2 linked regions of the Homo sapiens genome follow. The protein of the gene in region 2 interacts with the protein of the main gene of each other region in a pairwise test. Each region holds a gene or a part of one and is shown on either strand. Other genes may lie near its edges.

The links.
Region 1: the proteins of TEX29 (region 2) and MAL interact in binary tests that used the Homo sapiens proteins (3 or more experiments, as listed by UniProt).

Annotation. Positions count from the first base shown.
Region 1 is NC_000002.12:95,032,016-95,035,829, reverse strand, and holds part of MAL (myelin and lymphocyte protein), read right to left. Parts: intron 1-3,814. UniProt on the Homo sapiens protein: May be involved in vesicular trafficking from the Golgi apparatus to the cell membrane. Plays a role in the maintenance of the myelin sheath, and in axon-glia and glia-glia interactions.
Region 2 is NC_000013.11:111,337,410-111,341,223, reverse strand, and holds part of TEX29 (testis-expressed protein 29), read right to left. Parts: intron 1,931-3,814; coding exon of another isoform or gene 1,786-1,930; intron 1,362-1,785; coding exon 1,292-1,361; intron 1-1,291.

The sequences.
Region 1 (3,814 bases), on a different chromosome or scaffold from region 2:
GGTGTGGTGGTGGGCGCCTGTAGTCCCAGCTACTCAGGAGGCTGAGGCAGGAGAATGGCGTGAGCCCAGGAGGCAGAGGTTGCAGTGAGCCGAGATCATGCCACTGCACTCCAGCCTGGGCGACAGAGCAAGACTCTGTCTCAAAAAAAAAAAAAAAAAAAATCTAAGAGCTGAGTGGAGGGCCATAGTTTATATTAACAAGGCAAGTTGGACTGGGAAGAGCCCCCTGTTCAGGCTTGCAATCTCACCCCCCTTGAGCCCCAGGGAAGCCTCTCCCATAGCACACGCTGCCAGCAGGACAAAGTGACTGCTGACTTAACACCCACCTCCCTCATGAGCTAGAGGATGGTCACTAGTTCCTGAATGCACAAAAACTCCTCTCAGATCCACAAATCTAGGGGCTTTCTGATAGGCATGTCTTCATTTGAATGGAAAATTCTGCCTACCACATCTACACCTGCTGGCCTTACCCAGCAGGATAAACAGAAACCAAGAGGTTCTGTGAAAATACTGGGTAAGCCACCTGTAAAAGGCAAAATCCGTGGAAATGCTGGACCAGACAGGAGTGGCTTAAATGCAAGAAAAACAAAAGGGATTTATGGGAGTCACCAGGTAGGTTAGTAATGTGAACAAACCAACAAAACAGGTGTACACCTGCCAGAGGCGACAGAAGGCTGCCCGCCCAGGGTCTGGGAGGGTCCAAGGGAGATGGAACTCCCAGAGTCTCTTGGGGACTGGCAGCCTTTGTCAGTTTCACCCTCTGTCCGCCTTTGAGGTCAAGGACTCATCTTATGATTCATCAGTGTTAGGTAGGTGAGAGAGGAGACCCGAGCCCCTTCCCTACCGATGCTTGCTGAGAACAAATGTTTCAGAGTTCTTGATCTGTGCCAGGGATGTGGGCAGACTTAGGGTGTAGGCACGAGACAGACAATAAGCAAAGGTCTGCAGGATGTGCTCTGAGTGCCAGGAAAGGGTGCTAGAAGGGTGGGCTTCCCGGTGGAGGGGATGGGTTAGCTCGGGCCTAAAGGGTCACCTCCAACAAAGAAGCATTCCCACTGCTGCCCCCAACCTGACCACAGATGGAGATGAAGGAGGTCTGTGGCTGGTTTTAGAAATAGTCCTGAGACCCATAAGCTCGGCGGTTCCTTTCCTGCCAGGCCCCTCAATCCAACTATGCCCTCCTGCCAAGCAGCTGGGGGCCAGGATGGAGGCTGGGGGAGGTGAGGGCACAGGTTTTTGCCAGAGGCTGCCCCCTCCCTGAACTGATGCCCTTGCATACAGCCGACACACTGACACTGATGACAAATCGCTTTTGAAAGCTTTAATCTGAGCCTGCTGATAATTCATTCCTACGCCTGCGGGCAGATGTAGCTATGTGTCACACTCAGAATCCACAAAGCTCTGCCTGCCCATCTTGGCACCAGGCTGGCAGGGTGATGCAGAGAGGCTTAGAAAGCAGCCTGCTCCCTGGGCAGAAGGCAGGCTGGGGCTGCCACACTGTCCTCCACCCCTTGGCTGCTCCATCAAGCTCTTAGCTGAGGACACACTGACCTCTGCCCTCAGTTGTTCCTTCTTGGTGAGAGGAGAGCCACTGGGAAGGCCCCAGGAAGGTGGTGTCTGTGCAGGACTCGGTGACTCCAGGGAAAAGTCAAGTGTGCCCTCCACAGCCTGGCCCAATCCCAATCCTCATGCAGCACCTGCCTGAGAATGGAACAGAGGGCACCTATGGCAAAGGTGATGGGGGCGGGCCTTGCGGACCCTGCCATCGGCACAGGTCGGCCAGTTGGTTTCAGAGCAGATGCTTAAATTATTAGTCAACTAATAATAACAGCACTTGATAGCTATGGGGCAGTAGCTATGTGAGGCAGGTGCTGCTATGTCCAAATTTTACTGATGCAGAAACTGAGGCACAGTTACCTGCCCACGTTCCCACAGCTGCCGGGTGCTCCTTTGATGAGCTGGCTGAGGCCCAGATCCAGGCCCCCATGGGTGTGACAGTTACCTCTTGTGTCTAGGGTCAGCTTTGGAAATGGCCATGAGATTTTTGTTTTGATGACAGGTTCTCACTCTGTCACCCACACTGGAGGGCAGTGATGCGATCACAGCTCACTACAGCCTTGACCTCCAGGCTCAAGCAATCCTCCCATCCCAGCCTCCTGAGTAGCTGGGACTATGGGTGCAAGCCATCATAGTTGGCTAATTGTTTACATTTTTTGTAGAAATGGGGTCTTGCTATGTTGCCCAGGCTGATCTCAAACTCCTGACCTCAAGTGATCCTCTCACCTTGACCTCCCAGAGTGCCAGGATTACAGGCGCGTTAACATGGAGCCTCCTCCATGTTAACTAAGTGGCGAATAACCACTTAGTCTTTAGGCCACTCCCAGCCGGCTTCTCCCTCCCTGGCCCGCCACTGAAACAATGAGTCTCAATATCCTCTGTTTCTTCAGAGGAAAACAATAGCAAGGTTTGTGTTTAAGACACATACAGCACAAGATGAAATGCCAAAGGATCCCGCTCCCTCTTCGGCAGATGCAGGCCTGTAGTTCAGTCTGAAGAAGAGGGAGGGGCTGCCATGCAGACCCCACCCGCCCCACTCCACTGACAGGTCAGGGAACGTCATCTTCTGTCCTTCCCCGTGGCCCTATTCCTGGAGTGCCCACCTCCCGGGCCCCCCGTGGGCCTCCCTCCAAGTTGGTTCTGGGACCTTCACTTTCTGTCTCCTCCCCCTGCCCTTCCAGCCCCTCCCCTCCCAGCCCACTGCATTCTCACAGGGACTGGAGGCTGTGGCCAGGAACTGCAGGTCAGTGAGGCTGGCTGTGCGACCCTGCACCTTCTCTTCCCGCTGCGGAGGTGCTGTGGCTGGTGACAGGCTTTCCTTTGATTTCCTACATATGTTTTGCAGGACCCAGGGCCCGGGTACATTAAAATGATTCACCCAATCCTGGCATAGAACACTAGCTGTGAATGAGGTAGCAGCGGCAGAGAGCCTGGGGAGAAGTGCTGCAGAGAAGCAGAGTGTGGCACGTTCATGACCCCAAGAAGGGAAATGGCTACACTGCTCATGCCCAGCTAGGAGCTCACTGGGTATCAAACCTTTCACCAGGGTGTCAAAGGCAATTTGGAGCCTTCCAAATTGATGAGAGACCACGAGGGACCTGCTCCATGCTCCATGCCCTTGGGAACAATCTGAAAGCTGTGAGAAGGAGCTGGCCACACACCCCAGAACGTTCCTGCTTCAAGGACAAGGGGCACAGTCCCCCACTGTCCTCACACCCATCAACACCAGGAGGGTACACCCTCTGGGGTGTCCTATCAGCACCTGTCCCTGAGGCCTGCTGGTCCAAAGCACCATGTCCGGCACTGACACTGGAGGGGCCAGGAGGAAGCCCTGGAGTGGCTTAAGTCAGCCCCCAGCCCCTTCTAGTTCAAGTCTGGCTGGCTCTGTCCTGTGTCAAGGCAGGTCCCAGGTGGTCCAGTCCCTACTCCCAGCCCCTTCTCTGGAGAATGTGTCTGGGCCCAGGACAAAGCCAAGCCACTGCTAAGGCTGTGCAGAGCTAGTCTGTGCTGGCAGCACAATATGCTCTGCCCCTCGCCTGCTGGTGTGGCGAGTATAGGTGCAAAATTCAGCCCTTGTCCCTGGCCGACCTGAGTGTGAGCGCTGCTGGCAGCAGCATCGTGGGGCTTCCTACTCACTTCTGAAAGCACTGGGACAGAAAGGGTGCCTTTGCACCAGTTCTGGCATTGCCCCATCCCTGTGAGGTGGGGGAGTGACTTATGAAAAGCTAAAAGGCAATCTTTTAAAATATAGCTCAGG
Region 2 (3,814 bases):
AAACACGGGTTATGATGTTCATCAACAAGCACAGGTGCTCACTAAACACGGGTTATGATTTTCATCAACAAGCACAGGTGCTCACTAAACACGGGTTATGATTTTCATCAACAAGCACAGGTGCTCACTAAACAGGGGTTATGATTTTCATCAACAAGCACAGGTGCTCACTAAACACGGGTTATGATTTTCATCAACAAGCACAGGTGCTCACTAAACACGGGTTATTATTTTCATCAACAAGCACAGGTGCTCACTAAACACGGGTTATGATTTTCATCAACAAGCACAGGTGCTCACTAAACACGGGTTATGATTTTCATCAACAAGCACAGATGCTCACTAAACACGGGTTATGATTTTCATCAACAAGCACAGGTGCTCACTAAACACGGGTTATGATTTTCATCAACAAGCACAGGTGCTCACTAAACACGGGTTATGATTTTCATCAACAAGCACAGGTGCTCACTAAACACGGGTTATGATTTTCATCAACAAGCACAGGTGCTCACTAAACACGGGTTATGATGTTCATCAACAAGCACAGGTGCTCACTAAACACGGGTTATGATGTTCATCAACAAGCACAGGTGCTCACTAAACACGGGTTATGATTTTCATCAACAAGCACAGGTGCTCACTAAACACGGGTTATGATGTTCATCAACAAGCACAGGTGCTCACTAAACACGGGTTATGATGTTCATCAACAAGCACAGGTGCTCACTAAACACGGGTTATGATTTTCATCAACAAGCACAGGTGCTCACTAAACACGGGTTATGATGTTCATCAACAAGCACAGGTGCTCACTAAACACGGGTTATGATTTTCATCAACAAGCACAGGTGCTCACTAAACACGGGTTATGATTTTCATCAACAAGCACAGGTGCTCACTAAACACGGGTTATGATTTTCATCAACAAGCACAGGTGCTCACTAAACACGGGTTATGATTTTCATCAACAAGCACAGGTGCTCACTAAACATGGGTTATGATTTTCATCAACAAGCACAGGTGCTCACTAAACATGGGTTATGATTTTCATCAACAAGCACAGGTGCTCACTAAACATGGGTTATGATTTTCATCAACAAGCACTCTGGAGAAAATCAGTGGGGCCCTCCGTGAGCCTGGCCAGTTCCCTTTCCCAGGCTCACGGAGAGCTGTTCTCAGTCACCCCAGCAGCACCAAGCCCGAAGGAGCCCAGGCAGGCAGGAAGCTGCGGCCAGGAGAGGTGAGTCCCCTCCTCCCCACCCTCCCAGTAAAGAACAAAGGGACCGACCTGTAGATGATGGTGATGACGAAGGCCCCAGCGATGATCACAATCAAGGCAGAGAACACGTGGATGTAAACTGAAAAATGGTGGGATTTGAAGTCATTTCGATCCAGGTAAATAGAAAAGGAAGAAGATGAAGAAAAGGCAACCCTCCCAGAGTCGGGTGCGGGCCCTCCCGGCGCGGCTGCCCATGGTCAGCACTCCTCACCCACCCTCCCCAGCGTCTCCTGGAGACTCAGCTCTGTGGACATCTCCAAAGGCCCCCGCAGGCAGGCGAGGGCTCCCTGTGAAAGGCAGCTCCAGGTGGTAGTCAGTGCCACCCAGAGGACACCTTGTGACCACCCTGACCCCCGGGAGTGCATGGAGAGACGGCACTGGGTCCTGACCCCCGGGAGTGCATGGAAAGATGGCGCTGGCTCATGACCCCCGGGGGTGCATTGAGAGACGGCGCTGGCTCCTGACCCACGGGGTTGTGCTGAGAGATGGCGCTGGCTCCTGACCCTCGGGAGTGTGTGGAGGATAGATGGTGCTGGCTCCTGACCCCTGGGGGTGCGTGGAGAGATGGCGCTGGCCCCTCTGTTCCTGCTGTGCTCCCCAGCTCCCTGGAAATGGCTCCTCAATGCCCAGGTCAATTCCTCCCCTAAACTGAATACAAGGAAAACACTTATTGGATCATAGACAAATCCTTGACTGGGCTTCCTTGTATTAAAAGGGGTTCCTGCAATCCCCAAGTTTCCCGTGCCTTCTCCAACCCAGCCTCAGCAAAAGTCAAGCCTCCCCAGGTGGCCACGAGGGGCAGCCCCGCCACCCTGGGTTTCCCTGCGTGAGTGCACTCCCAGCCTCTCCAAGACGGGGGTAACTGGGAGGAGGAACTGCTCAGCCCCCTCCTGAGCCTCTTTCTGAGAGACTGCCCACTGCTCAGCAGGCAGGGCCCTGTCTGTGCAAGAGGCCTGAGGGGCGCAGCACCGCCCAGCACCGAGGGCTGATATCTGGATCTCCGTCGGCTCATTGGTTCAGGACTTGGACCCCTCAAGTCCTAACATTTGTACACGAGCATCATTCCTCTCAGAGTCCTTGGTCAAATAATATCCTCATCTACTGTTTGTTCTTCTATGTTCCTTCCGTCAGGTTGATGTAAGGAATTTTTTAATGAATGCAAGTAAAGTTCTTAAGTGGTTGGCTAATCACATATACAGAGTAATTCTTATTGTTGTTATTATTATCAATATTAGTCTCTTCTCTAATTGCTTTCTTACTCTCTCAAAGAAACTGGCTGACTTGCAAATATCAAGTGCAGGTGACACGATTTGCTTCAATTCCCATACCTCCCCTCCTGCTAAACTGCTTCCAAGTCGTGAAGCAGTAACAACACCATCAGATGTAATTTCCCTGGATGGTGTGTCAGTTTGCCAGGGATGCTGTAAGAAAGTACCATGCACTGGGGGGCTTAAAACAATAGAAATTGATCATCTCATGGTTCTGGAGGCCAGAAGTCCAAGAACAAACTGTCAGCAGGGCCGTGTTCTTTTCAAAGGCTCCCGGGAAGGGTCCTCCCTGGCTTCCTCCTAGCATCACAGCAGTCTCTGCCCCTATTGTCACGTGGCTGTCTTTCCTCTGTCTCTGTGTCTCTTCTCTTTTTACAAGGACACCAGCCATTTTGGATGGAGGGCTCACTCTACTCCACTATGATCTCATCTTACCTAATTACACCTGCAAAGACCCTTTTTTCTAAATTAGGTCACATTCACAGGTACCAGGGATCTAAACTTCAACATATGCATTGGGTGTACACAATTCAACCCACCCCAGAAGCAAGGCCGCAGGTGCAGAGAAAGTGGCCTCCTGGGCACATGAGCCAGCTTCCGAAGGGATCCGCACTCCCTGGACTCATCACAGGGCCACCAGCAATGGATGAGGTGCCCAGGATTCTTTCCATGGGGACTGAAGTCAGAAAACTGAGAGGGGATTGAAGCCAGCTTGTGAGGGTAACCCACATCCTCGATTTTCCTCATACCGAGGTGACCTCAGTAAGGAATGGTGAAGTACCCAATGGGCGCTCGATAAGAGTTCCTCACAGAGAGGCTGGAGGAAGGGAGCGAGGCTTGGGGTTGCAAGCTGTCAGATAACAGGAATGTGCATGTACCGAGGAGCACACTGGGAAACTGCTTGTCAAACATTCTTCCAATCAGCTGCCTTATTTCTTTAAGTGAGGACTGTCCCGTGGAAACTTGCTTACCTGAGGAGGGGAAACAGTGGGGCAGACTCACCTCCAAATATCCGGGGCTACCATAACCAGCTTCCAGGATGGCCTCCCGATTCTCACCTCCTGGTATTTACACCCTAGATAGATGTTCCCACACTGAACAACGCTGATCCCTGGAGCCAAAGGAGATGCCAGAGTCTAACCCCCGAGACCAGGTAAAAAAGACATTGCAGCTTCTGCCCTGATCTCTCTTGGGCCAGTTGCTCTGGGAAAGACTGCAGCCCTCATGCGAGGAGAAGAGGCCTCCTATAACATCTGGTACCAAC